Homo sapiens: one gene and its partners. The protein of the gene in region 2 interacts with the protein of the main gene of each other region in a pairwise test. Each region holds a gene or a part of one and is shown on either strand. Other genes may lie near its edges.

Region 1 (8,188 bases), on a different chromosome or scaffold from region 2:
TCTCCATGAGCAGGGGCAACAGACAGTGGTAATTTTCCCTAAAATTTTTCTAATTACATAAATTTTCCATCAGGGAAGGTCTTATTGGTAAAATTAAACTAAAAGCATTAGATTCTTCTTGCTCTGCTTCAATTTTTTAAAAAGCCAATAATTTCTAGCCCTCAACTTTTACACACTGAAATTCAGACCTGTATCTGAGATTTTATATTGTTACACAGGAAGTATTTAATATAAACTTTTTTTTTTTTTTTTTTTTTTTGAGACAGAGTCTCACTCTGTCACCCAGGCTGGAGCGCAGTGTTGTGGTCTCGGCTCATTGCAACCTCCACCTCCTGGGTTCACGCCATTCTTTTGTGCCTCAGCCTCCCAAATAGCTGGGATTACCGGCATGCACCACCAGGCCCAGCTAATTTTTGTATTTTTAGTAGAGAGGGGTTACACCATGTTGTCCAGGCTGGTCTCAAACTCCTGACCTCAGGTGATCTGCCTACCTCGGTGCTGGATTACAGGTGTGAGCCACGACACCTGGCCAAAACACACATTAGAAACAGAATTTAAGAGCTAGAGGGATCTTAGGAATCAACTCTTTTGATAGCTTCACATTCACAAACAAGAATGTAAGCCCCAGAGAAGTTAAGTGACTTGCCTAAAAACACAGTGACTCAGCACACAGAGAGGAATCCAGGCCACCTGGCTTTCACCCTAGAGCTTTTCCCACAATTCAAAATTAAAGGATCTTCTTGCTGTTGCCTTCTTCAGTACCCTACAACAATGCTTTGCTCCTTCTACATAGCAAGATACCTAGGGTCTCATTGTAGACCCCTCATTCCATGAAACTAGACTCAGAGTAGTTTCTGAGTCACTCTGAGTGTCTACTTATCTGTAAGTTCAAGGATATTCCAAAATATGCTTTCCAAGAGACAGTCTCCCTAAAAATGTCCCTCTGGCTTTACACCACAAAAATCACCCTAGCAGTAAAGAACAATAGAAACCATTTCCACCCACAGTGATAACCTCCACGTAGGTGCAGTTTCAGCACCAGCCAAATGGCAGCAACACTCTTCACTACAGCTTCCCTTGCCATCAGTTGTCTCACCAGGGCGTGCATGTGGTGCTTTTATATCCCCGCAGTGTTTAACCCAATATCCACGTGGTAGAGACTCAGTAGTTGCCTCTCAAGTGGGAATTAGACTTCAAAGACTCTGATTAAATCCTAGAGCAGGGGTCAGCAGACTATAGCCTGTGGAGCCAACTCCGGTCTGTTTTTATGAATATCTGACTCTTTTTGTAAATAAAGTTTTATTGGAACACTCCCACACTCGTTCATTTACATGTTGTCTATGACTGCTTTCACATTATTATAGAAGTGAGTCATCGCAGCAGAAACCATATGACACACAAAGGCTAAAAAATATTGGCTCTCTGGCCCCTTACAGAAAAAGTTTACTGGCTGGGCATGGTGACCCACGCCTGTAATTCCAGCACTTTGAGAGATCGAGGTGAGCGGATCGCTTGAGCTCAGGAGTTTGAGGCCAGCCTGGGCAACATGGCGAAACCCCCGTCTCTACAAAAAATACAGAAATTAGCCAGGCATGGTGGCACGCGCCTGTAATCCCAGCTACTGGGCTGGGGGTTGGGGCCTGAGGTGGGAGGATCACTTAAGCCCAGGAGGCAGAGATTGCAGTGAGCAGAGACTGTGCCACTGCACACCAGCCTGGGTGACAGAGTGAGACCCCGTCTCAAAAAATTAAAATTAAAATTAAAAAAGCTTCATATAGCAATTTGAATTTTATAAAAGGGAAAAATGAAAAAGAAAAACTTTGCTGACCCCTGGTCCAGGGTTACAGCGTGATATGGTAGATAAACCATTTTCCAAAGCCTTTTTTCTGTTTACTTCCAAATGATGCTTATGAGATGGGGAAAGGTCCAAATCCAGAAAGATCTTGCCAAACCAAAACCATTATTATAACCAATTACAGCTGTTTCCTTTTCAAACCAATGTGCTTATTAATAGGAAATTTTTTGAAATATATTCGAGTACTTTTCTCTTTTGCATTTTTTTGTTCCTGTTTCCCTCTATTCAGCCAGATGTATCCATATTATTTAAAAGATAATGAGGATTTTCACAACAGGAGTGCAAAGAGAAATAAATAGTTAATATTTTGCTTCTGGCATCCGAAATAAGGTTTTCCAGAAAGTTTTTTTTTTTTTTTAAGACATGGTCTTGCTTTGTCAACTCAGGCTGGAGTACAGTGTCATGATCATAGCTCACTGCAGCCTTCAGCTCCCAGGCTCAAGCAATCCTCCCACCTCAGCCTCCCAAGTACCTGGGACTACAGGTGCTGCAAGCTGCCACATCTAGCTAAATTAAAAAAAAATTTTTTTTTTGTAGAGACAGGATCTCACTGTGTTTCCCAGGCTGGTCTTGAACCCCTGGGCTCAAGTGACCTCCTGCCTCTACTTCCCACAATGCTGGGATTACAGGTGTGAGCCACCATGTCCAGCCAAAAAGTTCTTCTACAGATGGGATCTCACTATGTTGCTCAAGCTGGTCTTGAACTCCTGGGCTCAAGAGATCCTCCGGCTTTGGCCTCCCGAAGTGCTGGGATCACAGGTATGAGCCATGCTGCCCAGCCAAGACAATATTTTTGACAACCAGGTTTTCTTGAGAGAGAGGATTTTCTAAATTTCTTCATTTCCCTTTGAATTGTTGTCATAGAGTTCTACATCAGATACATCCCAGCCAAACAGGAAAAAAAAAAAAAAAAAGAAGACAAAGCGTACATTTTCTGATTCTAGATTAAGGGGACTATGGGAAGAAGTAATCTCAGCTACTCGGGAGGCTGAGGCAGGAGAATCGTTTGAACCCAGGAGGCAGAAGTTGCAGTGAGCCGAGATGGCGCCACTGCACTCCAGCTTGTGCAACAGAGCGAGACTCCATCTCAAAAAAAAAAAAGTGCTTAGAATAGTGCTTGATACATAGTGGTATTATTATGAGCGGTGGGGTGATAGATATTACTGGTAGACTTTTTAAGGAGTGCTGAGAAGAGTGGGTTCCAGGTCTCATTTCCATTCAGGAATGTGGAAGGAGATCACCTCGCAGACTGCCCTGTGTCAGTTGGAGCAGCCACATCAGAGCAAACTCTGCTGGAAGTGGGGCTGAGCTTGCCTTTCCCCTGCCCTTCGTCAGCAGCCCTCAGTCCCCATGTGCCTAAGGGGGCTCAGGAGCACTGGTCAAGCATCTCACAGGAAAATTTCGAGGGGCTTATCTTAGAGATGTGGGCCACTGAGCGGATACAGTGGGATGGGGGCACATACAAGTCAAAGCCAGGTCTCAGGATGGTCCACATTGCCACGAGCCAAGGTAGCGCAGACAGCAAGGGAGAACACTGGATCTCAAAGGCAGAAAGAGAATCACCCATGAGTGACTCTGGCCTAATATCAGACATCAGCCACCAAGGCCAGCAGAAGACCCAGGAGCAGGACCTGTGTCTCCTCAGCAGTCAGCAATTCGGGCGGGCCCGTGGGCCCAGCAGCTCCAGAACAGAAAGGAGCCGAGATGGAGAGGCCACAGGATAGATGCAAGAACCGTCCCCACCCCGCCCTCCTGTGCACCTAGGTGCCATCTTCTGCAAATCCGAAAGACTGAGCATTGTGTCTAAAGTGGACTGTTTACCATTTAAATGATTAAATCCAACTATGCTTCATAGATTAGACTAAAATATGGCCCCCATCCAATCATCCAACCCTCCCTCGCACCACTGTCCAGAGGGATGGGAACTTATAAAGGCATTTCATAGAACTGAAGAAATCGCCTTTTTTTTTTTTTACATTTGAATGTGGTGAGGGTAAACGTGTTGACTCTGCCTGTCTTCCTCCTGCCCGCACCTCTTCAAGCCCTGAATTGGATTACAGGTTAACACCCTGCCATGCACGTCTACAGACATACCCACACCCACACCTGCACAAGCTTGTGTCTAAACCTTGCTTCAGGAACAAGCCAGAAGAGTTTTGGGCTCTAAGGTAAACAGGAGAGGAAAAAAAAAACTTTCTAAAAAAAGACTCCCTCCTGGTAATTTTATTTTAAAAGTAGGGAGAATACCACTGTTTGCATAAACAAGCTTCGAAGGTACAACTACTCCCTGCTCCCTCTATGGCTAATCAAGGGAGGAGTTGAAGGAATCAAACAATCCGTCAGTAAAAACGTATTGTTCACTCACTTTGCAGAACAAAGCCTATGCTTTGGAGCCTATTAGGTAAACTACAATTTTTTTAAAAACTTTTAGGGATATAGGGAACAAAGCAAAGAACAACGGAAATCCCTCTGCCTCAGTATTGAGACTGTGCTGGAGGTCACTCCACCCGTGGCGACTGGGGACTGGACCCAGCGGTGAAGTCAGATAGCGTTGTCCTCAGGCTGTTTTTCAATTTGCTTGATAAACATGCAGGATTTCTTTGCCAGTCATAAAGCTACTAGCTCAAAGCAGGCTGGGTGACCTCAGATGGCTCCGCTGGGACTGGAAGGTCACTGGAGCCACTGGTGAAAATGATGCTGTCACTACCAACTCAAAAGGTCACCTATCAGTGTGCCATGTGCCACCTCCTGGAGCACACACATGTGCACACACATACACTCACACGTGTGTGCAGGTGCACACCTCCCCCAGAGGCTGCAGCCAAGACGGGCATCCCACATCAGAGGGATGAATGGCAGGTCTGTCCCGCCAGCTGTGTGCTCTCTCCCACCCGAAGAAAGCAGCAGAGACTCAGACGGCGGAGCCTGGAGGAGCCCACGCAGTCTGTTCCCGGCACCCGGTGCGTGTGAAGGGACTTGAGGGCAGCGAGATGGAATCAGCAAGAGAAAACATCGACCTTCAAGTAAGTTCTCTCTGGAAGAGAGCAGAGGGGAGACCGGGAGTAGAGGTGAAGCTGGAAGAACAGAGGATTGATACTTTAGTCACTTGATATTCTCCCTCCCCGTTCTCTTCTTACTCACTCCCTTCTCCAAATGCTCCCTAGGCTTTGTCTCTTTATTTTCTCTTTCTCTCTGTTTCCCTATCTGGTTCTTCACTTGTTTTGAAATATCTGAAAAACAGATTGGTTAACTCCCTTTTGGCCTCTGCTTCCTCTTGTCAGTCAAAGAGCTAATTAGATCCGTATTACCAGAAAATGATTTCACATTCTGAGCAGTGCTTTCCCCAAACCCCAGGACAGTAGAGACTTCTCTTAGAGCTGCCGGGGAGACAGGAAATATATGAGTTTTGAGGCTAGGAAGAGAGGCAGCTGGCCAACTTTGCATTTTACAGGTTGGAAAAAACTTGAGCCGTTTCTCGGCTGTCTTCACAAAGCTCTACTGTGTAGGACAGAAAGCGTCTCATTTGGACAGTGCAAGGAAAGGAAATCAGTCTAATCTCCTAGGAAGAGGCAGAGATGTGTGTCCCTCTGTAGCTGGGATGGGCTTGGAAGGCATCAGAGGTTCCAGTCCACTGCTGGAGGGGAAAGGGTGGGATGTTACGGTGAGAGGAGAGCCAGATTGCTGGGAGCTGCACTCTGTGACTCCTTGCCAATGGATAGAATAGAACGAACCCTTCTATGACCACTGCTGAGGCTGTGTAACATTGCAGAGAATCAAACAAAGTGTGGAAAAGGACTTTTGAGATCAAGAATTTCTGATCCCTGAACCTGGTCCTCGAACAAAATCTTAAGCAGCCACCCAATATACACTTCGGATTAAAGAAGAGCTGTTTTGTTGAAGCAGAGTATGTGCACGCGTCTCTCTCTCTCTCTCTCTCTCTCGTTCTCTGTGTGTGTTTTGGGCAGGGTGGCGTGAGTCTGGCAGAGTCTCTGTCCTTGGCCCCTCCGCCCTTGAGACACCACCAGGGAACTGTAGGACTGCTTGGTGTGCTGTGTCAAAACCATTCACCTAGTACAACTGCATACCCAGTGCTGTTTTCCTGGATTGGCAGCCAGCCCCGAGAGCGGTCCCACCGCAAGGCTTGCTTGTCCCTCTGTCTGGAACCTTCTTTCCCTGGCTTATCTCCTGGCTGGCCCTTCCTAGTACATTCAGGTCTCAGCTCAAATGTTACTTCCCCCAGGAGCCCTCCCCTGACCAACCTCTTCACAGGATGCCTCCTCCCCAATTTGTCTTTATCATTTGTTTAATTTCTTTCATAGCACTGCTCACCACCTAAAGTTACACTGCTTATTTATTTAGTATGTATTGCCTGTCACTCTCACTAGGACACAAGATCTCTGAGGGCAGGGCCTCTCCTGTTTTATTCACTGCTGCAGCCCGAGTGCATGAGGCAACTCTTGGTACACGGTCATTGCTTTAGAAAACATTTGTTAAATGAATGAGTTGAGGAAGCCATGAGTTGGAGAGGCTCTGAGATAGGAATAAGGTCACCTAATTGGCCCAAGACCTCCAGTCCATGTCTTCTGTCCCTAGTATGTGTTTTCTTCTTACTTCTAGTTCTTGCCTCTATAAGATCCTTGGTTGTTAAGGAAATTGTGTTGCTGCTTATTTTCATTCTCAGAAGAGCAAGTTTCTTATGTGCTGATGGGTTGAACGATCCAGAGTTACAGGCTAAGGACTCTGCATCTGAACCAGAGGTTCAGAAGGAAAGAGGTGGTGGGAGGAAGGAGAAGGAAATGACTGGCTAGGCTGGATGAATGTCTCTCTCTAGCAGGTAACTGAGGTGTTAGTGTACCTTTCTCTTCATTTGTCATTCACTCTCTTCTAATATGCTATTTAATTCTTGTATCTTACATTTTCCTTTGCTCAGAAGGTTATCCATTATTTTCTACAATTTATTGTCCACCTTTGGCTGGGCACGGTGGCCTACGCCTGTAATCCTAGCATTTTGGAGGCTGAGGCAGGAGGATCACTTGAGCTCAAGAGCTAGAGATCAGCCTGGGCAACATAGCAAGACCCTATCTCTATTAAAAATTTAAAAGTAATTAGCTAGGCATGGTGGCATGCACCTGTAGTCCCCACTACTCGGGAGGCTGAGGTGGGAGGATTGTTTGAAGCCAGGAGTTCAAGGTTGCAGTGAGCTACAATCATGCCATTGCACTCCAGCCTGGGCGGCAGAGCCAGACCCTATCTCTAAAAACAAAACAATAACACTCTTTAGTTAAAACAATGTTTCCCCAAAATGTGGTACAATTATCACCAATGGGTGGTAAAGGTACATCAATGGCTGACAGCTTTTTATTATAATGTTTATTTTTACAGTTTTTTTTGAGATGGAGTCTCACTCTGTCGCCTAGGGTGGAGTGTAGTGGCAAAATCTCAGCTCACTGCAACCTCCGCCTCCTGGGTTCAAGTGATTCTCCTGCCTCAGCTTCCCAAGTAGCTGGGATTATAGGCATGTACCACCACACTTGGCTAATTTTCATATTTTTAGTAGAGACAGGGTTTCATCATATTGGCCAGGCTAGTCTTGCACTCCTGACCTCAAATGATCCACAAGCCTCGGCCTCCCAAAGTGCTGGGATTACAGGTGTGAGCCACCATAGCTGGCCATCTTTATAGTTTCAGTATTCATTAGAAAGAGCATAACAGGGCCGGGCTAGGTGGCTCACGCCTGTAACCCCAGCACTTTGGGAGTCTGAGGTGGGCGGATCACGAGGTCAGGGGTTGCAGACCATCCTGGCCAACATAGTGAAACCCTGTCTCTACTAAAAATACAAAAATTAGCTAGGCGTGGTGGTGTACGCCTGTAGTCCCAGCTACTCAGGAGGCTGAGGCAGGAGAGTTGCTTGAACCTGGGAGGCAGAGGTTGTGGTGAGCGGAGATCGTGCCACTGCACTTTTGAGACTCTGTCTCAAAAAAAAAAAAAAGAAAAGAAAAAAGAAAGAAAGCATAACAACTTATCAGACCTGTGATTCCTTTTTTTTTTTTTTTTTTTTTTAACAGACAGGATCTTGCTGTGTCACACAGGCAGGAGTGCAGTGGTGCAATCTTGGCTCACTGCAGCCTTAACCTCCTGGGCCCAAGTTATCCTCCTGCCTCAGCCTCCTAAATAGCTGGGACCACACATGTGCACTACCATGCCCAGCTAATTTTTTTTTTCTTTTTTTAGTGATTGGGGTCTCACTGTATTGCCCAGGCTGGTCTCTAACTGCTGGTCTCAAGTGATCTTCCTGTCTTGGCCTCCCAAAGTGTTGGGATTACAGGCATGAG
Region 2 (7,905 bases):
AGGGATCTTGACACTGAGCTGCCCTCTTTCCTCTAAAATATTCATAACCACTGCTACCATTTGTCCAGAGCTTAGATGCTTGCGAGGCTGTTTCACAGCATGTCTCATTCAATCTGCTCAACAGTCCTCTAAGTGGCCCTTCCATTGGACATCAGAAACATAAGTTGACTTGCCCAAGGTCATGCATTGGTGAATGGCAGATCTGGGACTCAAACCCATGTCTAACTCCAAATCCCACAATCTTTCATTCTCCTAGGCTGCCTCCACCAGAAAACGGTTTGGATAGGCTGCAACTTTTTACAAAGGAGATACTTGAATACTTAGCCAGTTCTAGGTCTAGGGCTAGCTCAATTAGTTAGGATCCAGAGCTAATGAGGCTACAGGCCCACATTTGGTTCCAGAGGGCATCATTTTCTCCTCTAGCCACTCAACGGCCTTGTCTGGTTGTCCTACCTTTAGTCATAAGATGTCCATGGCACAGGCTGCAGCCCAGAGTAATTGGCTTCAAGACTAGAATCATCTCCAGAAGCAGCCATGCTCTGGTGGAGGGCCAGTAGCCTTGTACTTCTAGATCAATGGTGAGTGCAGGACTCTCTGACCACAGCCATCGAGTACACCCATTGCTGCCTTTGGACCTGGACATCTGAGGCCACTGCCCTGGGGCCCATGTTTTAGAGGGCTCTCTTGGTCTCTCTTCTAGCCACACTCTTTCACACGGGGTGAAGAGTCTGTGGGCCAAAGGGCCTAGCCCAGGCAGAGCCCACACCCCTCTTGTAGACTATGCTCAAGCTGCTTAGGACCCCAAACGCCCTGCCTAAGTGCATTCCAGAGCATTCTCAGGCCTCCGATGCAGATCTGTGCTCCTGAGAGTGGCCAGGCAGACTAGGCCTGAGGAGTGGGGTAGGGGCCATGCACCCAAGGTCCTAAGGCCCTTCCCAGTGAGGGCTGGCACCAGGAACTGGAAAAAAAAGAGGGCCAGGTTGTGAGCCAGGAACTTCTATCAGCACTTATGTTCTGCCACCCACAAAAGTCAGGGGCGGGCCTGACAAGAGGTAAGGGGAGCTAGGGCTGGCTAGGTAGCTTTCTCCTAGAATAGAGAGCCTAGTGCTAAAGAGGAAATGACTAAGCCTGGCTTGTTAGAAAAACCAAGCCTTTGGGTGAAGGTAGGAGTCATTGCTAGGTCAGAGGTAAGGTGCCAGGACATCACAGCCTCCTGACAGAGCTAACCCCATGTGCAAGACTGCCCACAGCAAATTCCCCTGCCCACCTCTGAAGGTTATTATTTTTATGAATAGCTACTACTGGGTGAGTGCTTAACAGATTCTAAATAATTCAGTTACCATCTAATTAACCTTCCACAGCTCTAAGGCAAATAATGCAATTCTCCATATACAGACAAGGAAATAAAGCTCAAAGAGGCCATCTATACGAAGTGCCCCAGGTCACCCATCCTATAAGTGGTAGAACTAATGTGCTCACTCAGGCAATTTAGGCTGCGATGCCCCAATGGAATTATAAAGATAAACCGATAGCTACGAAAACAGAGCTCTTTACAGCAAAGAGGACCTACAAATTTGAGTATTACTAAGGCTGTTATCCTCTCTGACAATAGGTTCATTGAATCATTCAGTAAACATTTATTTTAATTTTTAAAAATATTTATTTATTTGTTAAGACAGAGTCTCTCTCTTTTGCCCGGGCTGGAGTTCAGTGGCGTGATCTTGGCTTATGGCAACCTCTGCCTCCCAGGTTCAAGTGATTCTCCTGCCTCAGCCTCCCTAGTAGCTGGGATTACAGGTGTGTGCCACCACTCCCTGCTAATTTTTTGCATTTTTAGTAGAGACGGGGTTTCACCAAATTGGCCATGCTGGTCTTGAACCCCTGACCTCAGGTGATCCCCCCGCCTCAGCTTCCCAAAGAGCTGGGGTTACTGGCTTGAGCCACCATGCCCGGCTATTCAGTAAACATATAATTGTCTGTGTCTACATGCCAGAAACCTTGCTGGGTTATGAGACAGAAAGATGAGTAAGTTACAGCCCTTGTCTTCAAGAAATGTAGAGCAGGGGTTCTCAAACTTCAGCAAGCCCCAGAATCACCTGGAAGACTTGTTAAATCACAGATTGCGAGGCCCGAGCCCTGAGTTTCTGATTCAGTGGGTCTGAGTAGGGTCCCAGCACGTGCATCTCTAGCAAAGTCCCAAAAGATGTTGATGCTGTTGTCCTGGAGAACCCACTTTGAGAACTACTTTGAGAACCACTTTGATAAAAGTTAGGGCAATCAAGATCCTCTCCATAAGGCAACGTAGAATTGCACTGCTCTCCCTTCCCTGAGCAAGAAGCACAAGGATAAAACGAACCTCAGAGTCACCCTTGAAGGAGGAAACCATCCCAAAGCTTCTTCAAGCGCTGCAGAGCCATAGATGGTGGCCTCGCTGAAGTCTCCCTGTGAATGGGAGGCAGGCGAGCACCATCCCGTGAGCCCTCATGAGTGTGTTCGGTGTTTTATACTCCTGGCTGGCTGACACGCTTTCCTCTAGCCCCTCTAGCTGCCCATCCCTGCAAGCCCACAGCAGTTACCCTGTCCAGGTTCAAACCTGGTGACATGCTTGGGGATCTTACTACCAACCTGAGGGAAGGGGCCAGAATTCCCGGGAATGTCTTTTCAGATTACTTGCATTTGATTTCAGGATGCATAAGAGAGGGCAGATGTCCCACATTGGCATGAACTGAGAATGAGTCGTCCACCTTGTGCTTTTCCTCTCCTTCCTGCAAAAAGTCCCAGAAGACGATCAGCAAGGAAAGCAGCCGCTAGGGAAGGCAAATAAAAAATAAATAGAAATGCACAATTGGCTGGGAGCCCCTAAGGATTAACTAACTAATTAATCCCACAACAGTTTGACCAGGAACTAATTAATCCGTTAAGCACTTGGAGGGCCCAAGGCCCTGGCCAAGAGCAGGGAGAGGCTTCACTTATCTCCGGAGGCTGGCGCGGAGTGGGACTGTCCTCCAGGCTCTCCAAGGAGGGCCTGGGTGAAGACTGTCCTTCCCAAAATCAGTGGTTCCTGCTGCATCAGAAATCTGCTTCTCAAGCTATTTCTTGAGCCAGACTCCTGTGTCACTCTGCCCAGGGAACCGAATCAAAGAAGAGAGCCCTGAGGAAAGGCAGCTGGGCTTCAGCCCCTCCAAGGATGGGAGCCACAGAGTGTTAGAACTGGAAAAGACTTCAGCCATCTCGTCCTTCCAACCCACTTTCCAGATGAAGAATGAAGTTTCCAGGTTACCTGGTGTGCTGTTTGGACCTAGAGACAACTGATGTTTCTTTCTGATCATTCCTACATAGCACCCAGACAGGGAGAATTCAGATCTCTCTTTAGGTGCTGTCTTTAACTCCACCTCAGAAGTCACCAGGTGCAGAAATCTTTCTTAAAGCAATGTAGTCTGTTTGACTAAGATCGTCATTTTTTAATATGATTTTTCATGAGCTTTGGTAACAAATTTAAGGCTGGTCACAACATATTCAGGTGGCTCTAACATAGATCTTTCCTCTCATTAGCTTTTCTGACACTCTTTTTAATCTTCTGTTTCCCTGAAACCCAGGTCACCTCATGTTACAACCTGATCTCCAAAAAATCTGACAGCAGCCATCTGGGGATGTAAGCTACTGTTAACCTTTCCCAGAGAATATTTTTCTTTAGACTCCTCTCTCATTACAGAACAAGAGACTCTATAGCCTAAGTGGTAAAAGAATCTCAGCTGAGTATGGGGGTGCATACCTGTAGTCCCAGCTACTTGGAAGGCTGAGGTGGAAGGATTGCTTGAGCCCAGGAGGCCAAGGCTGCAATGAGCCCAGATTGCACCACTGCACTCCAGCCTCGGTGAAAGAGAGAGACCCTGTCTAAAAAAAAAAAAAAATAAAGGAATCTCAAAGACCAGGCAGCATGCATTAAGAAATTCTAGAACAGACACTCCTAAAATCACAAAATGAAATGTGCAAGGCGCTTGTGACAGCGTCAGCAACACCGAAGGCTAGACTGCCAGTATGCTGAGTGGCGGCCATGCCCTTGATGGTTCACTTAATACATGTGTACTGTGTGCTAGACTCCAGTCCAGGTGCTAACGGTGGAAAGTTGAATCTGACAAGAGCCCATGACGGGCTCCCTGTCTAGTGGAAGGGAGGAAAAGAGCCATGATTAAGAAAAAGTTGCCACTAAGGTGTGATGAGTGAATTAATGCATACTGTCTAGTTACTATAAACTGAGACCTCATCCTCTACAGTGGGGTCAACCAGGTGAGTGGGTCTTGGCATGGGGCTGATAGAATCTGCAAGACTTGCAAAGCTGCCCTTAGGCAGAGTTGGGGTGTGATGCCCCAGCTTTTGTGTGTATCAGCATCACAGAGAGAAAGACATTCTTAAAAATCCAGATGGGGTTGGGAGTGGTGGCTCACACCTGTAATTTCAGCACTTTGGGAGGCCGGGGTGGTTGGATCGCCTGAGGTCAGGAGTTCGAGACCAGCCTGGCCAACATGGTGAAACCCCGTCTCTACTAAAAATACAAAAAAATCAGCTGAGTGTGGTGGTGCACACCTGTAATCCCAGCTACTGAGATTTACTGAGGCAGGAGAATTGCTTGAACCAAGGAGGCAGAGGTTGCAGTGAGCTGAGATCGAGATACTGCACTTCAGCCTGGGCAACAGAGCAAGACTCCCTCTCAAAAAAAAAAAAAAAATTCCAGATGGCTGGGCTCCATCTCCAGAGTTCCTGATTCAGTGGGTCTGGGATGGGGCCCAAGAATTTGTAGTTCCAGCAGGCTCTAGATGATGCTAATGCTGCTTGTCCAGAGACCACACTTGGAGAACCACCATGCTGGAAGGTTCTGATCGACGCAAGGTGCCATGAAGAAAGGACCCCCCTACAGAAGCCCCCACAACTGCCATCAGGACCAGGCTCTGCTGCAAGGCCAAGAGTGCCACTCACTTCCTGTATTCTCTAAAGACCTTTTCCTGCTGCTTTTAAAATTTATTTAGTTAGTGAGTTAGTAGTTTAGAGTTATTTATCTATCTCTATTTATTTTTCACATAGAGTGAAATGGATGAGAATCAAATCCAGATGGCTGGAGATGATGTGGATTTACCTGAAGATCTCCGGAAAATGGTAGATGAAGATCAAGAAGAGGAAGAAGATAAAGATTCTATTCTTGGGCAGATACAGAATCTCCAGAACATGGACTTGGATACCATAAAAGAAAAAGCCCAGGCCACCTTCACTGAAATCAAGCAGACAGCGGAGCAGAAGTGTTCCGTGATGTGAGGGGTGGGAGGGGTGGAGGGAGGGAACCAGCCATCCTTGGAAAAGACCACTCTCTTGTGGGACGTTTCAAGCAGTACATGTTTTAATGTAGTGAACACAGTTAGGAAAACCACGATGATCCATTGACAGACAATAATTTGGTTGTTCTAAATATTCCTGGCAGAGCATTTAGCTAACACCTTGCAGCGGGAACCTTACTTTCCTTTTAGTTATAAATGAGATAAACTGGAAAATTTCAGTTGTAAATGATGATGCAGAACACATATCTGCTTAAAGACCTTGAGATGAGCCAGGAAGAAACAAAAGCAAGGGGCATTTCCTCTCCAACTTTCTTCCTTGGAGGCCAAGTTCTCACCCTGTCCAACTATTCGCAGGACACCAGGTCCCTTCAGAGAGAAATGTGGAGAGTCAAGGTGTCTACTGGGAGCCGGGTTTCCCACAGGGAGCTGAGTCTACAGACTCCAGGGCAATCAAAGGTCACCACCCCCACCCCTCACCTCTAGGATCCTTGAATTTGTCAATGATACTCATCAAGTATGCTTGGATCCTTTGGTCCTTGGATGCTTCTCAGCCAAGTGGCGGTAGCACAGATGTGGTGAACAATGACGAATTGAGGCAGGGAATAGACCTCACTAGCCCTTTGCAATGGAGATCATCGTTCTAGTGGCCATGTGAAGAATGGAACCAAGGGAGGCACAATTAGAGGCAGAGGGAAACCAGGCAGACGGCTGCTCTTTTTGAGTTGAGCTTAACTCTCCTTGTCTGAACTTGGTGATAGCAATGGGAACAAAGTGGGTAGACTAACAGAGAGCATTAAGAAGTTAAATCAATCTCTCTCTGTCTCCTCCCAACCTCTCTCTCTCTTTCATCCCCTTCTCTCCCTATCTCTCTTTTTTTTTTCTTCTCCTGTCCCTTCCCATCCCACCCCTTTAGACTACCTTCCAGTAAATCACACTGTCATTTGGTGCCACAAGCTTTCAGGGTAGACACTGATTTTTCCCCCCTAATATCTGCTCTCTTTCAAAAGGAATAATTCAAAAGACTTAGGACAATTACCACTGAAACACTTCGAGCTATTTAGCTAAAGCCCACCAAACCAAAACAAAATACTGATTTTTTTTTTTTTTTTTGGTGACTCTGTTCATACAGTGAATAAAGATCTATCAAAGGAAAAGGAAACTGAGACCGAAAACTTAGGGTCTAAGTTGTTCTAAACCCAGGGTTCTCAAATGTGTTGTACAAAAAGTTTCATGTAATAAAATTAAGCAAATAAAACAAATGAATAGAGGTCCAAAACCTATGGTCCTTGGCAAAGTTTAATCTGTCTTGGAAATTCCTGGGAGAACATTGGTGCAATGATTGAGGCTGATTAGCCTTCTAGTCCACAAACCCAGATGCCATGGGCACATTTTAAAACTGTGCTTGTCTTTTATCAGAAATGGCATGTGAGTTGTGATTTGTTTTATAGCAGAAACTTTAAAAAACTCACTTTTTTAAAAACTACAATATAATAGATAACATTTATTTTCAGTTTAATGCCTGACTCTGCCCTGTAGTTGGTGAGGTGGGTAGTATGGATGGGTGAGAGGTGCTGTATGTGGCCTGATATCTGTACACTTTGTATGACATAAAATACTACAGCTGCCAAATTGTTCCACACTCTAGCCTCAGGATGACAAAGAAGATGTGCTTTCTTGTAAAAGATGCAGCCAGTTCTGCTAAGGAAATCACTAAATTGGCACTTCCTCTTGACTGCCAACATTACTCCAATGCAATTTGGTCGTTGTCTCAATGAAGCTGCACAGCTGCTAGAAGACTCTGACCATGATTCCTCTCATATCACACCATACAACCCCACAACACAGCCCAGTATATCACATCACCCCACATCACATTACACCAGACCACAACCTATCACACCACATTACACTACAACGCACCACCCCACACTAAACCACCCCTCACCATGCCAAACCACACCACCCCAATCAACACCAAATCACATGTGTATGGGTTGGGAGAGGGAGGACATGTATTAGGGCATCCAGAAGGCCCCTTTCTCTCTAGAGGGTAGATAGGTGTCTGTGCTGTATGATGTTGAGGAGCACAAAAAGGTCTCCCATCATCAAAACCTAGAATCCAACAATTATTAAGGACTACGAGGGAATCTATTCCAATCTCCCATACAATAAAGGGACCCTTCCCAAACTGTCCCAGTTGAGCCTTATTTGAAAGCTTCCAGTGGTACAGAAGTCACTATCTGCTGCTCCAAGGAAATTTAACCACCAGCTCTTCCATTTGTAGACAGCTCTAGTTGTTAGAAAATCCTTCTTTGTCTTAAGCTGAAAATGGTTGCATCTTTAATCCATTGGTCATGGTTCTGTTGAATTAAACTGCACAGATTGTGCCTACATTCCCACTCAGGCTTTGATATATCCCCTCTCAGTTTTCTCTTTTTCAGGAAGACATCCTTACTTCTTTTTGTCAATTCTTATCATACAGTAGGAACACTGTGAACCCACTGGGTAATTGAATGCTGACTGCCCATGTCTAGGAGTGAAGCCAACCATGCAGAAGGCAGCAATGCTGTCCCCTTCC
Region 3 (7,450 bases), on a different chromosome or scaffold from region 2:
CCCAATGGGTTCGGTCTCCTTTGCGCTTTCGCAGTCCAGTGTTTGCCGCGGTTCCCGCACGGTCAGGCCCCAGGACTGGCTTGCGAGCCCCGGGGGGCGGGTCGTGTCGTGTCCTTTTCTCTCTGGCTAGGCAGGTGTGCCGCAAATATTTGACGAATAGATGGATGGCAGACATTAACTGCGTGCCTGGCCCTATGAGGGCGGCGGCGGGACAGGGTGAGCGGAGAGACAGAACTGTCCCCGCCCCACCCCGCCACCCATTCCTAGGGTTCCTAGTCCCGGGAAGGCAACTACCCAAAGACGCCTGGGTTGTCAGGCTCAATCCTTGAGCCTCAACCAAGGAGCAGAGGGGTGCGGGTAAACGAGGAGTGGGGCGAGGAAAGCGGGATGGGAACAAGTGGCCTGTCCCCGCACGGCCCGCGGCTCAGCCTCGGCCGTCTGCCCTGCACTACCAAGGCCGACCACTAGAGGTCAGCGTCGCGCCGCACTCTTCACCCGCATGTCCAGAGGGCGGCCGGGATGTGGAGGGTGAGCGCTGTGGGCAGCTCGGGGGCTGAAAGCTGGGAAGAGAAATCTGAAGAACAGCCCCATCTCTTTCGCCTGCACACTTGGAACTCAGCAAGAAGGGACTGTTTCTAGGTGGGCTGGGCGCGAGCAGGGACTGTCCCGAGCGGTATAGGTGAGAATGGAGTTGGGGGGGGACACTAGGTCCTCCGGGGTTCACCCACCTGGAGCTGGAATTATCACTTCCGAAATAAAGCGCGTGTCCTTGCCCCCTCACGCTCCAGGCTATAAATACCCTTACAGCAGCTGCTCGAGGGAGGGGCTCAGGGCTCAGGGCTCGCCTGGGAGCGCGTGCGACTCCAGAGGGTGAGGGTGGTGGGTCCAGCCCAGGTCCAGGGTGTCAGGTGTTTTCCTGCTTTGATGGCCTGGCAGCTCTGGAAACTCCCGTGACTGTCTCACTGGCAGGAACATACTGTCCCCTTAGGCCTCTCCAAGGCCTTCCACCCCCACCCCCCAGCTTGACCTCGGCGGGCCCCTGGATGACTCAGGTCCTCCCTAGAGCCAGTCACAGCTGAGTGGCAGAGTGGGTTACCCTTGGGAGGCGTGGTGCTGTGAGATGCTTGAGGTACAGGGCGGACTGGAAATTAAAGAGGTGGGGGAGAGGCAGTCCGGCCCGGAGTCAAGAACTGAGGGTGGGTGGGAAAGCATACAGCTGGGGCCCAGGCAGCCTTCCCAGGGTGGGGAGGGCGCTGGATGCCAGGCCCAGCCAGGTGAAAGAGGCACCTTTCCAATCACAGCTGTGACACCCAGGACACTGAACTGCCTTGGCATGTCCTCACCCATGGGCCGGGCACTGCTGGTCCCAGGGGTTTGTATTGTACCAACAGGCAGCGCAGACCGACAGGCCCCCAGACCCTGCTGTAGAGGAAGGTCTACCGAAATGAGGCAGAAATCCCAGACCTGCCTGCACTGGCTGTCTGACTTCAGGAAAACGATTCAACCTCTGAGCCTGTTTTTTCATCTGTAAGAATGCAGGACAGCAGTGATGGTCTCCTTTTTTTTTTTTTTTTTTTTTTTTTAAGCTGGAGTCTCGCTCTGTCACCCAGGCTGGAGTGCAGTGGTGTGATCTCAGCTCACTGCAACCTCTGCCTCCCCGGTTCAAGCGATTCTCCTGCCTCAGCCTCCCGAGTAGCTGGGATTACAGGCACAAGCCACCACGCCTGGCTAGTTTTTGTATTTTTAGTAGAAATGAGGTTTCGCCATATTGGCCAGGCTGGTCTCGAACTCCTGGCCTCAAGTCATCTGCCTGCCTCAGCCTCCCAAGGTGCTGGGATTGCAGGCATGAGCCACCGTGCCCAGCCAATGACTGTCTCTTGAGAGGGGTGTAAGGACTTGGCATACGGCAAAGCCCAGGATCAAGTTCCTGGGGCCTGCCATGGCTTGGGTGGGGGTGGGGAGTTGGGTAGGGGAGGTTGAGTCCCCTGAGATTGTGGTGGAATGGAGCACCCACCAGCAACCCCCCACCCCTCTCCAGGCCAGTGCTTTCCACAGACTTTTCACAGACCTGGAGGGGCTGAAGGACCCACCTACCTAGAACACAGGCGATCAGGATGACAGTGCTGGGAAGGCACAAAGAGGTCATTTCACAGATGGAAAGACAGAGATTTAAAGTGGGAGGCAAGTGACCAAACCCACCTCCTCCCACCTTGGGCCAGAACAGTCAAGACAAACTCAGCACTGCCCCTGGGGAGGCTGGGAAGCCCACCTGACTCCTCAGTGAGGCAGCCTCGGGCCACAGAGTTCCCTGTCCCCAGGATGGTAAAAGTAACCAATCTTCAACAACCACAGGTACTTGGCCAACTGGCTCTTGTTCTCAACCCTGTGAGGGAGGCATCAACCCTGTCGGTGTACAGATGAGACTGTGGGGCAGAGGCCAGCTCGCCCAAGGCACTTGCTTACAATGGCAGAGACAGACCTTGTGACACAGGACTCCCTGATAACTGGGCATGTTGTCTCGATGAGTCGGGGACAGGTTTCCCCTCTTGCATCTTGTAAACAAAAGCCACCCCTAAGTCAGGAATCTTCACACACAAGCCCCAGGAAGCTGCGGTTTCCCTCCTAGCTGGCCTCTGGACCGAGTGCAGCCCCACTTGTCTCCCTTTCCCTCCACCATGTCAGGCTCCGACTGGGTCAGGCCAGGTAGGCAACAGAGTTGGCCCAGCCATATCTTTCTGGAGACTCTGAATCCCCTGGGACACTCTCAGGGCAACAGAAGTGCCAGGGGGCTTGGAGGCTGTTAGTGCAGAACCCAAGCTGAAATCTCTCTACCCCCTGCCCACCACCTGTGCCAAAGTTGTTTTTTGTGTTGGCACAGCTGAGGAAATAAGGAAAGAGGAAACCTGTCTCTTACCTAGTAAGAAGCCTCTCCCCTCCAGGAAAGGGAACATTTGGCTCATAGCTGAAGTGACTAAGGCACAGATAGGCCTCAGGTGCCTCCTGGCTCCCTGCCTCAGGGAGGCTCAAATGAGAGTGTGAGGGTCCTCACCCCCGTGCCTATTGCTATAGGCAGATGGAGGGGCTCAGATTCATAAAGGCAAAGGCCAGCCAGGCTGAGAATGGGGCATGAGGCAGGCAGTATGGGCGCGCTGGGGCCAGCCTCCCCTTGGACGTCCCGTGGCTCACCACCTTTGCCCCTGCGAGTGGTAGAACATTTGCTGAGGATTAGGCCCAAATACAGCCCTTCCAGAGCTGGCCCAGGAGCTGGAAGAGCAGGGTCACACTAGCTTTATACCCGCTGAGTCCCCACCCTGGCTGTAGTCAGATGGGAGGCTGGGAAGAGCTCCATTCCTGGAGTGGGGCAGAGGTCAGGAGGGGGACCTGGTTTACAACACAGCTGGGGTAGGCAAAGTCCTGGCTGGGCCTGGGGGACACTCAGTCCAGCCACCTGCAGGTCCTGTTCATGCCCCAGTTGGTGCCTGGCTGAGCAGTCAGTCTGAGGGGCCCTGGCATGCCTGACAGTCCTTCATGTCCTCCGAGTAGTCCTCGATCTGGATGGTCACGGTGTGGAAGTGGAACTTCCCTTGGAGGCGGCTGCTGGCTGTCTTCAGCACAGCCTGGGCGTCTGTATTCTGAGCTGGGGGCCGAGAGGACACAGCGGGGGAAGCCATTTACTCTGGCCCTTTGGAACCATCAGGAGCCCAAATCTCATACCCCATCCCCAGCAGAACAGGATGGGGGACCATGAACATGGAGAAGCCCCCAGATTCCATTCCTCTGCCAGGTAGCCTCCCAGCCCAGACCTGGCTCATGCCTGAAAGAGCTGGTAAAGCACTGGCCTTAAGGCCAGGAATCTGCCACCTACTGCCATATACTAGCTGTAAAAGCCTGGGCAAGTAACTTTACCACCCAACCCCAGCCTCAGTTTCTTCATGGATAAATGAGATTGTGCTGATCAGATGGAATAATGCGTATCAAGTACTCAGCATGAGGCTGGGCTTGATGCATGGGCACTGTGAGCATCTGGGGTCACCTGGACCCGTTGGGGATGGCACTAGGCCTTTGGCTGCCTGTCTCCCACCCCACCCTGAGTGTCCCAAGCACTCACCAATGGCGATGTGGACAGACAGAACAGGCTGGGCCACCGTCAGTGCCCAGATATGCAGGCTGTGCAGGGCTTCTACCCCCTCCACCGACAGCAGCAGATCACGAACAGCTGTGAAGTCAACGCCCTTGGGGGTCCCTGAGGACGGCAAGGACAGGGGAAACTAAAGGAAACTACCCCTCCCACGCCTGCCCATTGGTGCAGGGCTGGCTCCTGATCCTCAGGTGTCATCCCCTCAAAGAAGACCTCTTTGGCCTGCAGGTCTGAGGCTGCCTTCACCTCCCAAGGTCTCTGCCCTATCACTCTGTTGTATTTCCTCTCCACTCTTAACACTGAAATTATTTATGAATGTACTTATTGTCAGTTTCTCCCTCTAAAATGGACACTCCATGAGGGCAGGACAGTCTCCTTTGATTACCACAGTATCCTTGGTGCCTAAAACAGCACCTACTCCATAGTAGGTGCTCAATAAATATATTTTTTGGTTTTTTTTGAGACGGAATCTTGCTCTGTCACCCAGGCTGGAGTGCAGTGGCGTGATCTTGGCTCACTGCAACCTCTGCCTCCCTGGTTCAAGCAATTATCCTGCCTCAGCCTCCTGAGTAGCTGGGACTACAGGCGCATGCCACCACGCCCGGCTAATTTTTGTATTTTTGGTAGAGACAGGGTTTCACTGTGTTAGCCAGGCTGGTCTTGAACTCCTGACCTCAGGTAATCTGCCTGCCTCGGCCTCCCACAGTGCTGGGATTACAGGTGTGAGCCACCGCACCTGGCCAATAAATATATTTTTGAATGGAAAGAAGGAAAGAACAGATCCTGAGAATCCTTGGACCCACCCAGGGCACGATCATCATCTTCATCATTATCGCTTTCATCTGGGTTAGCATATTCTTGGAGAAAAAGCTCTGACCTGCAGCCAAATACTGCTAAGCCCAGGCCAGCATCCTACTCCATTCCAGACTGACCCTGACCACGCAGAGGCCTATGACCCTGGCCCAAGACCCCAGGCCTAGAGCATAAGAAAGCCAAGGTGCAGGGCCAGGTGTGGTGGCTCACATCTGTAACTCCAGCACTTTGAGAGGCCGAAGTGAGATGATTGCTTGAGCCCAAAAGTTCGAGACCAGCCAGGGCAACATAGTGAGACCCCCCCCCCATCTCTACAAACATTTAAAAGTTAGCCAGACATGGTGGCATGCGCCTGTGGTCCCAGCTACTTGGGAGGCTGAGGCAGGAGGATTACTTGAGCCTAGGAGGTCAAGGCTGCGGTGAGCCTTGGTGGCACCACTGCACTCTAGCTTGGATGACAGAGCAAGACCCTGTTTCAAAAAAAAGAAAAAAGAAAAAAAAAAGGTAATTCAGGGCAGACCAGATCATTCTCCACCACTGACCGTTCTCCAACCCCACAAAGCACAGCCATGTCCCCACAGGGTGTGGCATTGTTTGGTCCCTGAGATGTAGGAAAGGCCTGCGCTGCAGTGGATTCAGTAGCTTTGTCCAAGGCTGACTGTCCTTCTCTGAGCCTCAGTCTGCCCCTCTGTGCAATGAGAAGCATAATCCTCACCCCCTCTCTCTTCCTGAGAGAAGGCAGCCAGAGCCTGGGGAAGTGTATAGGGGAGGGCTGGAGAGCTCCAGATGCTACAGATGTCCCCCAGAAGCCACCTGACTAGGCAGAGGAGGCACCCTTAGGGGTAGGGGGAAGGGAAGACTCGGGCTGGGGGACGGTTCCAGGAACTGCCACACCTGAAAGCCCAGGCTCTATGTCAAGATCAGCCCAGGGGCCCCAGGAGGTTTTCCAGCCTATGCCGGGGCTCCGGATCCTGGCTCCCCGCCCATGTGCTAGGATGCCCCAGACACACACATACCCTATTTGAGCTGATTAGCGCTTGAGAGCCAAGAGCAAAAAGGGAGCCACAAAGCCCAGGTTACCTTCCATCAACACCAGGATCACATCTCTCAGGATGGTCAAGGTTGTCCCCAGGACCAGGATGGAGAAGACGAAGGTGCAGATGGGGTCTACATACTTGTATTCTGGCTGCAGGAAGACAGGAAGGCAGACCTGGAGTTCACCATCTAACACCTCAGCTTCCCTTCTCCCCTCCCACCCAGCACTGCTGGGGAGAGGTGCTCTCTCTGCTGGGTGGGCATGAGCCTCGCCCTGGCCCTGCCTCCCAGTTTTCTGCTCTTTATTTCACATCTGCAAGAGCAGAAAGGACAGACCACAGTTCAGAATAAGGCAGTCCCTTCCCACCCCTCCTTCTCAAGGAGCTGAGACATGGACAGAGCAAAAAGGCATCTTAGATACCATCTGATCCGCCATCCGTCCCCATTTGACAGATGGGGAAATTGAGGCTCCATTAGAGCAAGCAAACTCATCCAATGTCACATGGCTAGCAAGGAGGAGAGCCAAGCTTCAGAGCAAATGCCTGCCTCTTTCCACTACAGCTCCCTGCCTCTATGTGATGGGCATTGCCCAGGGTTTGACAACACACAGTCGTAGGCTTGAATCTGGCTCTATGCTTTACCGGCTGTGTGACACTGTGCAAGTCACTGAACCTTTCTGAGCTACAGAAAACACTACCACCTACCCTTCAGGTTGTTGTGAGGATCAGAAGTGCTGACACTTGGTAGGTATTGGATAAATGTTCCTTTCCTCTCCCCACCCTTTTCCCTAGAACTGGGAGGGAGCTAGAATCTGAAAAGAAACCCCGGTAGAGAGTATACTCAGGTGGTCTACACTCCCCTGCCACCCCCACCACCCTGTGTCCCAGCTCTGACCTTGAAGTATAAAATATAGGCTGCCACTAGGACACCCATGCTCTGCATAAAGTCGCCGATCACATGGATGAAGGCAGCTCGGACGCTGGGGTTCTCCTCCTGCTGGTTGGTGGTGCCGTGGCTGTGCCCATGGCCAGACTGGTGAAGGGTCAACCCCATTCTATGGAAGTGGAGACAAAGCCAAGGGCTCACTGAGGTCGCAGATGGAGGTCACCTATTAGGACTAGCCAACTTGTAGGGCAAAAATCTCAAGCCCCTAAACCTTGTGATCTCTTTGGCCATGTGAGAAGTCCAACCCACGTGGCCTTGGTTCAGACAGCCATGAGAGATAGGGCCCAGCGCCAATGCCAGGCTGAGCCTGGGCACAACAATGCCACAGTGTCAAATCTCAGAGCAGGAGGGCATTAGGGAGGTCACTGTCAGTTCACTCCATCATGTCACAGATGGGGAAACTGAGGCCTCTGAACAAAGACCCCGAAAGAGACACCCATTGTCTCTAACTGAGACCAATTTCAGACTTGGGTTCTGCCCCTAGGGACAGCTACTCCTGCAACAACTGGCCTCTTCCCG
Region 4 (8,157 bases), on a different chromosome or scaffold from region 2:
AGAGAGGGCTGCTTAGGACACTGACCTTGGCCAAGGCTGGAGCTGGCCCTGGCAGCAGCACTGCCAAAGCGGCTGGTGGGTGCCCGGTGGCTAACCACGTTCTTCTGCGGCTGGAAGAGGATGATGTGCAGCTTGGGCGCAAAGAGGCAGCCAAGCACCACGGAGCCGCTGAGGCTGACTGACACGCACATGGTGGTGGTCTGTACCTGCGGTGGGTGAGTGGGTGAACAAGCACAGGTCAAGACCTGGGCCTGACCCCAGGACCCCCTGCCTGATCTGTGGGGGAGGGAGTGGGGGAGACTAAGCATCCAACACTGGGCTGTGGTCCATTTGCCGGATCCCAAAGCATTGCTAGGAAAATTGGGCACAGTCCCAGCATCAGACCCAGACCATTTTCCCAGGGTGACAAGAGTTCCAGCTGAAGGGGAGAACATGCAGGGGGGCATGTATACACAGGGGTGTGTGCATCTGGGGGCTGCAGGAATGGAGTGCGTGCATGTAGGTGTGTGTGTATATCTGTGTAAGTGCATGTATGTGGGGTGGTGAATTTCTGCAGGTGTCTGCGTGAGTGTATGTGTGCGTGAGTGTAGGGTGCATGGGTATGGATTCATTTGTCAGGAAGATATATGTGTGTGTGCCAGCGAGTGTGTGTATGTGGGATATGTGTGTGTGCATGCATGCATGTGGCTATGTCTGTGTGTACAAGTGTGTGTGTGTGTGTGCATGCATGTGTGGGTACGGTGTGTGTCTCAGGTGAGTCCTTAGCTGCCTGTGATTGGCATGCAAATGCAAATCATATGCAAATGCAGGCTGAGTCAGAGCAGAATCCCTCCCCAGCCCTGGCCTCTACCACCCAAGCAGGTGGCCCAGCAGGTGCAAGCAGAGCAGCCAAGCCCAGCGGTCCCTGGCCCCCAGCACTGTGCCACCACACCTCTGTCCTGGGGAAGGGGCCTTTGCCGGGGCTTTCGCCTCAATTTTTCTGCAGTTCAGACCCTGCTCTGCACTCCCAAGCTGAGTGACCTTGGGCAAGGGATTGAACCTCCCTGAGTCTCTGTTTCTTCATCTGTAAAACGGGAGAGCCATGGAGCTTACTCAAGTTATGAAGATTAACCAAGATAATCTTCTTACTCAGAACATAGCTCATCTGTCACCTCCTCAGAGAGGGCTTCCCTGACCACCCTATCTGAAGCAGCCATTGCCCCTTGGAGCTGGGGAGACCCATTGAGACACAGTGCCAGTTGGAACCAAATTTGCTCAGAAGCCACCAACTGGGGAACAATTTTCACCTGCTTTAGCTTTTCTCAACTCTATACCCTGGATCTCCTCCCCTACCCACCTTGCTTCATCTTTCCTGCCTTCCCTGGCTTCATCTCTCAACCCCTTCTGCAGATGACCCCTCAGTGGAGCAGGGCAGAACCCTGTCCATTTGAACATATTTCTGCACCCCCATCACCTTCCAGGATAGGGGATGACATTCAAGTCCTGAAATCTCAGCTCTCTCTAACTCGAGTTCCCCACCTCCCTGGCCATTTCCCTAGGTCCTATTCAGCCCTCCCACCTTCCCCTTGGGATCCACACAAGCTGTGGTCCCCTGAGTGGGCATTATCCTCTTGGAACCCCAGAGCTACCAGTAGATTAAATAAGATACCAGGAAACAGAGGGTCTGGTGTCCCATCTCCCCCGACCTCTGTGGCAGGTAGCTCACCCGGTAGTCACTGGAGGTGACATAGAAGATGGGCAGGAATGCCAGCCAGATGATGCAGGTGGTGTACATGGTGAAGCCAATGAACTTGGCCTCGTTGAAGTTTTCGGGGCACTTGCGAGTCTTGAAGGCATAAAGCGTGCAGAGCGCGATGAGGAGCACATTGTAGGCCAGCGAGCCCAACATACTTGCATCGCGGTGGTTGCAGCGCAGTGTCACCACCTCCCGCCGTTCGGGGGCTGTCTCCTTGCCTGTGCCCGGTGCCTCCACCACCAGCCAGGCGACCACGATGAGCAGCTGGCCCGAGATAAGTGCCAGGCAGATGGCCACCTGTGAGGCAGGACTGATGAAGCGTGGCCGCTGGGCACCCTCCCGGGCCCCACCGAAGATGCGTGCAATGCGGTTGGTCTTGGTGAGCAGGGCTGAGTAGCAGACAGAGAAGGCAGTGCCCAAACCAAGACGCCGTAAGGTACACACTGCCGTGGATGGCTTGGCAATGAAGATGAAGGTCATGCAGTAGCAGAGGAAGACACCACCCAGCAGGATGTAGCAGAGCTCCCGACCTGAGGCCTTGACCACTGGTGTGGCATTGTGCCGCACAAAGACACCCAGCACAAAGAGGGTGGCCAGGGCACCGAGGCAGGCGATGGTGACAGGTCCCACAGCCCAGGCATCGCCCCAGCGGATGTACTCCTGGGGCAGTTCGAAGCAGCCAGTCAGGCTGGCATTGGGCCAGTAGCCCAGGCCACAATCAGCGCAAGTGAATTCGTCCAATCGGTACTCATAGGGCTGGCACGGAATGCAGAGCCAGCAGCAGACTTCGCCCGGCTGCACACTCTTCACCTCATTCTGGAGGCAGGGCTCACTGCAGCGAGAGGCGGGCAGGGGGCCGGCTGAGGGTGAGGCCCATGGGATGAGGCTGGTGTCCAGAGTCAAGCCTTCTGCCCAGTAGCCCACCTTCTGGTAGCGATAGCGCCCACTGCCTGCACGCAGATAGGTGAAGATGTTGTAGCGGCCAATACCATCACCAAAGCGGTCAAAGCGGACCTCATTGTGGGTGTCAGCTGGGCGAAAGGGGGCTAGGATGGGGGAGGGAAGGAAGAGAAGGTTGGACTAGTGTGTTACCCTGATGTGACCTCAACATTCACCCTAACATGGAACCCAAATGCCAGAGCTAAGACCACCATTAGCCCTTCCAATCCTTAACCCAATACTAAATCCTGCCTTGACCCCAATCATTTTTCTAAATGAGAGATGACAACAAAGTCTTACTCCTAAACTCCAACATCAAACCCCAACCCTAAATGCCAAATGTAATCCCAGCCTTAAAGCCCAGACATCTCCAAAAACCTAATGCCCACATCAATCCCCAACCATGACTCCCCAAATTCAACTTTAGTACTATCCAACACTTTCCAACCCAGGCTCCAAATCCCAACTTCATCGAAACATACACTACAGCCCTCTCCCCAAACTCAATGCTAAGGCTAAACCCAGTCTCAGCTCCAATCCTGTCCCCACTAATCCTAACAACAACCCCAGCTCCAGCACCCCTAGTCCTAACAGTCATCCTGGTGCAAACTGAATCCCAACCTCACTGGTCACCTGCAACCACTGCCATTCACCAGAATGTGGTCAGTGGCTGGAAAATCACTTCCTCTCTCCACCCCCACTTCATCCCCTGTAAACCTCACATCTCCCAGCCAGGCTCTAGCCAGGATTTACAGCCATCCCTGGCCCCAGTGAGAAATCAGGGTTCAAGAAAGCAGAAGACATGCTTAAGGCCCCATGAGTGAATAGTGCAGCCTAGATTCAAACCCAGGTCCCCTCAAGCACCTACTCTTTCTACTCAGCCTAAAAGTTCTCAAAATCCAACTCTAGCCCTACCATAAATTCCACCCAAGCCAAACATGCTGAATTTAGCCTTGCTCTAACATCAACCAAATCGGACCCCAGATTCCAACCCTAACCCCTACACTGATTGTAGCTAACTCTGAATGTCAGTTCTATTGGAAGTACTCTTCATCTTAACCCTGGGCCAGGGCTTCCAAGCTTTGTCTCCCACTGTTCCCACGGTGATTCTTCCTGAAGCATAGTGATGATCTGCAGCAGTCATTTCTCTTAAAGCTGGCACTCTTATTAAAATAACTTTTGATTTCAGGAGACTTTCAGGTCACCTTGAGTGGAAAATCAAGATTAGGAATAGAAATTTTCCCTGAAGCTAGGAGCAGTGCCACATGCCTGTCATCCTAGCTACTCTGGAGACTGAGGCAGAAGGATCGCTTGAGCCCAGGAGTTGGAGGCTGTATTGTGCCTGTGAATAACCACTGCACTCCAGCCTACAAAATATAGTGAGACCCCATCTAAGAAAAGAAAGAAAGAAAGAAAGAAAGAAAAAAGAAAGAAAAGAAAAAAGAAAGACAGAAAGACATTTTCCGTGAATATAGAGCGTCATCCTGATGCTCACCCTCAAGCCAGACTGATTCTAACTCTTGGTGCTGCCTGAGAATGGGCTTGAGGTCTCCTGGTCTCCACCTTTGGCAAGATAAGGAGACAGAAGACAGTGGGCAAGGCCCAAGGAGGAGCCAGAGACCCTCAAAATGGCGGGACCAGGCCAGAGGTCTACTCTCTGGAAGAAAGTGGAACCTCAGCCGTAGCTTCAGTTGGAGTCCTCTCTGCCTAGCATCCTTGCCCTTGCTCTGACGCCACCCCAGGTGAGTCCTTTACTTTCACTCTACTGTTTCCTTAGCAAAGGAATGGAAGCTGAAGTTCTGCTTCCCCTCATCCTCTGACAGCCAGCAGGCCAATGGACACTGGCCAACACCATTACCATCAAACTTGACGTTGAGCACAAAGTCCTTGTAGAGGCGGCGCCCGTTAACTGGCCGCATCGCGTCACAGAGCCGGGTGGTGTTGGGGCAGAGGGCACGGTGCATGTTGTGGAGCGCATGGGCCATGGCGTACACTGCATTGACCACAAACATGATCTTGGACTCCTGCTCAAAGGGCACAGCCCGGAGAGAGTGGGCTGCGCAGTCTCGCTGCCGGAAGCTGCAGCGGAACCTCTGCTCCCAGAATTCACGGAACCAGGGGTTCCGGCTGTTGTTCCAAGGGTCCAGGCTCTGGAAGTAGGAGGCAAAGTCACTGATGGGGTAGGAGGCCAGCTCGATGGTGATAGCACCCTCAGCAGCCCCCTCACTGCCTGCCACCACACTCTCCAGGGCCCCCCAACCATCACTGGCCACCCAGGTGAAGCTGGCATTGAGGCGCTGGCTGGCAGCAAGCAGCTCCCGGGCATCCTCAGAACGGGTGAACAGGACAGCCACGCGGGCACTGGGCTTCTGCAGCAGGGCTCGCACCACACCCTCAAAGGCCGCGCGGCTCATGGCACGGCCCACTTTCTCCGAGGTGGCCACACAGATGTTGCGGGCACGAGCCTCTAGCTCAAAGGCCTCAATGCCTGTCTCGCCATAGTCGCCCTCAGACGCCACAGTGGACACATAGGTCCAGTTGAAGAAGCGGAGAATCTCAGCCATGGCCTTGGCTTGGAAGAAGTCAGGAGGCACTGTGCGGGCAAAGTAGTCATAGCGGGACTTGTCACTCAGCTTGGCACTGGTAGAGGCGTAGCTAATCTGTGGGATCTGAAATAGCCTCAAGAGGTTGGCCACCTGGGGGAGGAGTAGAGAAGGCAAAGATCAGCGGTCAGATCAAACACTAGAGACAGGTGCATCCCCCACAGCTAGCAGGTCTTGGTGTCAAGTGTCCACAAGGTCAGGCCTAAAGGCTCCCTCTCTAAAGCCCTGCATCCTGACTTGACAGTCTTCCCTCTGGGCTAGGGAGTTTTTTTATCTCTTTCCAAGGGCTGAGAGAGAGAAGACCCAGGGTGGAGACACCAGGGTCATGAGCCACACCTGATCCCCTCTGCCATCCCCTTTTAGACACATGGCAGGGGGGCCAAGGAAGGCCTGGGTGGAGGGAGGTTGGCACCTGGCTACACTGGGGCAGAGGGAGGCATGAGATGGCATCTGGCTACTCAGGGCTCTTCGGCTCTCTACTTATTTGAGGGTAGGTGGCCCTTCCCCTGAATCAATCTGATGGAATGATACAGAAAGAAGGAAAAGTTTCCCCTAGGAAGAAAGACACAGATCCCAGGGTCCGGTGGCCCTAATAGGCCAAGGCTTGGTCTCCATTGAATGCCTGAGTCTTAAACGTTCTACCACTGGCTGCCTGGCACCCCATCTCCCACCCTCAGGTCCCACAGGAGTGGGATCCGGCCAAGGGCCAGGTAGAGGGTGGGTAGGTGAAAGCAGAGCATGGCCCAGATTCTACAGCAGAGGGGTGAGTCTTGTGTTGCAACTGGATACAGGCTATGGCTCTGACAGTCTAGGGCTCAATGTCTCCTCCCCTCCCACACATTTTACCTTTGGGCCCCTGGAGTTGGCAAATCTCCCTGAGCCTCAGTTTCACATTCCTGCCCTACAAGGCTGCTGAGAGGATAAAAACGATAATGCATGGGAGGCCACAGTGCCTGGCAAAGGGAAGATGATAGGGACATGGGCAAGAGAGAAGGAGCAGCCATGAGGGGGAATATTAACAGGCAGGTGCAGCCTACGGATGACAGGCTAGCCTCGTGTTGATCAGGACGAGGGAGAAGCAGACCACTGCTGAGGCGTGGGCCCTGATCCAGGAGGCAGGCAGCTTGGGATGGCAAGGAGGTAACTGGACTTCTGGAGATAAATGCATGAGCCCTAAGGAGGACTGTGGAGAAAACTTCAGCAGAGGCCCTGGAAGACAGCAGCAGGTAGGAGGCCGCCCACTCATCCCTGCCCCAACCCGGGGCTGCAGAAATAGATGCTAGCACAGCCACATCTTCCCAGGCTGCTGCCTAGCCACCTCCAGTGACTGGGACTAGCAGGACAGCTGCCTAGCCACCTCCAGTGACTGAGACTAGCATGACAGCTGCCTAGCCACCTCCAGTGTCTGGGATTAGCAGGACAGATAATCCACTCCCAGCAGTGGATGGAGTGGCCAGGCCTCCCCGACTTCAGGCCGGTAGCTGACTCCAGGGTTCTCTGATTTCTGCTTCTGCTCCATTTCTCCTGAACAACTGTTCTAGGACAGGGGGCCTGGCCCTCTCCATCTCGGCAATGCCCTCAGCCACTCTCCGAAAGGAAGCTGAGGCCAAGCCAAGGCCTACCTTATGTCCCCCAGCCCTGATTCTAGCTCCAGCCGCATCTTCCAGCAGCCTGTGCTGGGCACTTGGCAAGCGGGAATCTGGGTGAGAGGTAGGACCCAGTCAGAGATGGGAGGATCGCAGCTGGGCACAGCCCTGGGAGCAGCAGAGGGGTGTCAGCAGGGCCAGCAGCCTCTGCTGAAGCTGAGCCACAGAGCACCCTCTGCTGGTCCCTGTGGGAGAGTAGGAGGCTGAGGGCAGGGGAGCTGCCTCCCCACCCTTCCCACCCCCTCAAATCCTGTGCCCCCTGAAGACTCTCTGGTGCCCTCCCCCGACACATATTCTGTTTATCTTCCTTCTGACTCCCCTACCCTGATTCTCTCCTCTGGCCACTCCTGGCTTCTATCTGGCCACCCCTCTCCAATCCAGGCAGAGATGATCTGACAAGTCAGGAGCCCCTTGGCCGAGAGCCGATTTCACAGTTCCCCTCCACCACTGCCTTGAATGTGGCCCACCTCTCTCTGAGCCTTCGTTTCCTCATCTATAAAATGGGTTAAAAATAATAGCAGCTAATATCAACGGTGCCCTTATGACTTGCCGGGCCCCTGATACATACTATGCATCTATCAACTCATTAAATTTCCATGGCAAACCTCAAAGTAGAAAGTGTTGTGGGCCGGGCACAGTGGCTCATGCCTATAATCCCAGCACTTTGGGAGGCCGAGGCGGGTGGATCACCTGAAGTCGGGAGTTTGAGACCAGCCTGACCAACGTGGTGAGGTCAGGCTCGTCTCTACTAAAAATACAAAAATTAGCCGGGCATGGTGGCAGGCGCCTGTAATCCCAGCTACTTGGGAGGCTGAGGCAGGAGAATCACTTAAACCCGGGAGGCAGAGATTGCAGTGGGCTGAGATCTCACCACTGCACTCCAGCCTGGGAGACAGAGCGATATCCTGTCTCAAAAAAGAAAAAAAAAAAAAGTGTTGTGAATCCAATTTTATAAGGAAGAAGCTGTGACACAGAAAAGAGAAATAACGTGCCATGGTCATGCAGTTAGTAAGTGGGAGACCTGACTATTAAGCCCCTCAGGGTTAACATCAAGGGTGAGGGTGTGTGTGTGTGTGAGGGTGTGTGTGTCTGGGTGTGTGTGTGGGTGTGGGGGTGGGTGTGGGGTGTGTGTGGGTGTGTGGGGTGCGTGTGTGTGGGTGTGTTGGGTGTGTGTGGGTGTGTCGGGTGTGTGTGGGTGTGTGGGGGGCTGTGTGTGTGTGTGAGGGTGTGTGGG

Evidence for each region.
Region 1: the proteins of CPLX4 (region 2) and NINJ2 interact in binary tests that used the Homo sapiens proteins (3 or more experiments, as listed by UniProt).
Region 3: the proteins of CPLX4 (region 2) and SLC30A2 interact in binary tests that used the Homo sapiens proteins (3 or more experiments, as listed by UniProt).
Region 4: the proteins of CPLX4 (region 2) and GRM2 interact in binary tests that used the Homo sapiens proteins (3 or more experiments, as listed by UniProt).

The regions. Positions count from the first base shown.
Region 1 is NC_000012.12:660,018-668,205, reverse strand, and holds the start of NINJ2 (ninjurin-2), read left to right. Parts: upstream 1-4,760; 5' UTR 4,761-4,845; coding exon 4,846-4,878; intron 4,879-8,188. UniProt on the Homo sapiens protein: Its role in unclear. In contrast to NINJ1 paralog, does not mediate plasma membrane rupture (cytolysis) downstream of necroptotic and pyroptotic programmed cell death.
Region 2 is NC_000018.10:59,294,100-59,302,004, reverse strand, and holds the end of CPLX4 (complexin-4), read left to right. Parts: intron 1-5,079; coding exon 5,080-5,307; 3' UTR 5,308-6,603; downstream 6,604-7,905.
Region 3 is NC_000001.11:26,035,669-26,043,118, forward strand, and holds the end of SLC30A2 (proton-coupled zinc antiporter SLC30A2), read right to left. Parts: intron 7,041-7,450; coding exon 6,881-7,040; intron 6,138-6,880; coding exon 6,032-6,137; intron 4,244-6,031; coding exon 4,109-4,243; intron 3,638-4,108; coding exon 3,492-3,637; 3' UTR 1,584-3,491; downstream 1-1,583.
Region 4 is NC_000003.12:51,709,686-51,717,842, reverse strand, and holds part of GRM2 (metabotropic glutamate receptor 2 isoform a precursor), read right to left. Parts: intron 7,145-8,157; exon of another isoform or gene 6,124-7,144; intron 5,371-6,123; coding exon 4,533-5,370; intron 3,880-4,532; coding exon of another isoform or gene 3,860-3,879; exon of another isoform or gene 3,819-3,859; coding exon of another isoform or gene 3,722-3,818; exon of another isoform or gene 2,782-3,721; coding exon 1,706-2,781; intron 207-1,705; coding exon 26-206; intron 1-25. UniProt on the Homo sapiens protein: Dimeric G protein-coupled receptor which is activated by the excitatory neurotransmitter L-glutamate. Plays critical roles in modulating synaptic transmission and neuronal excitability.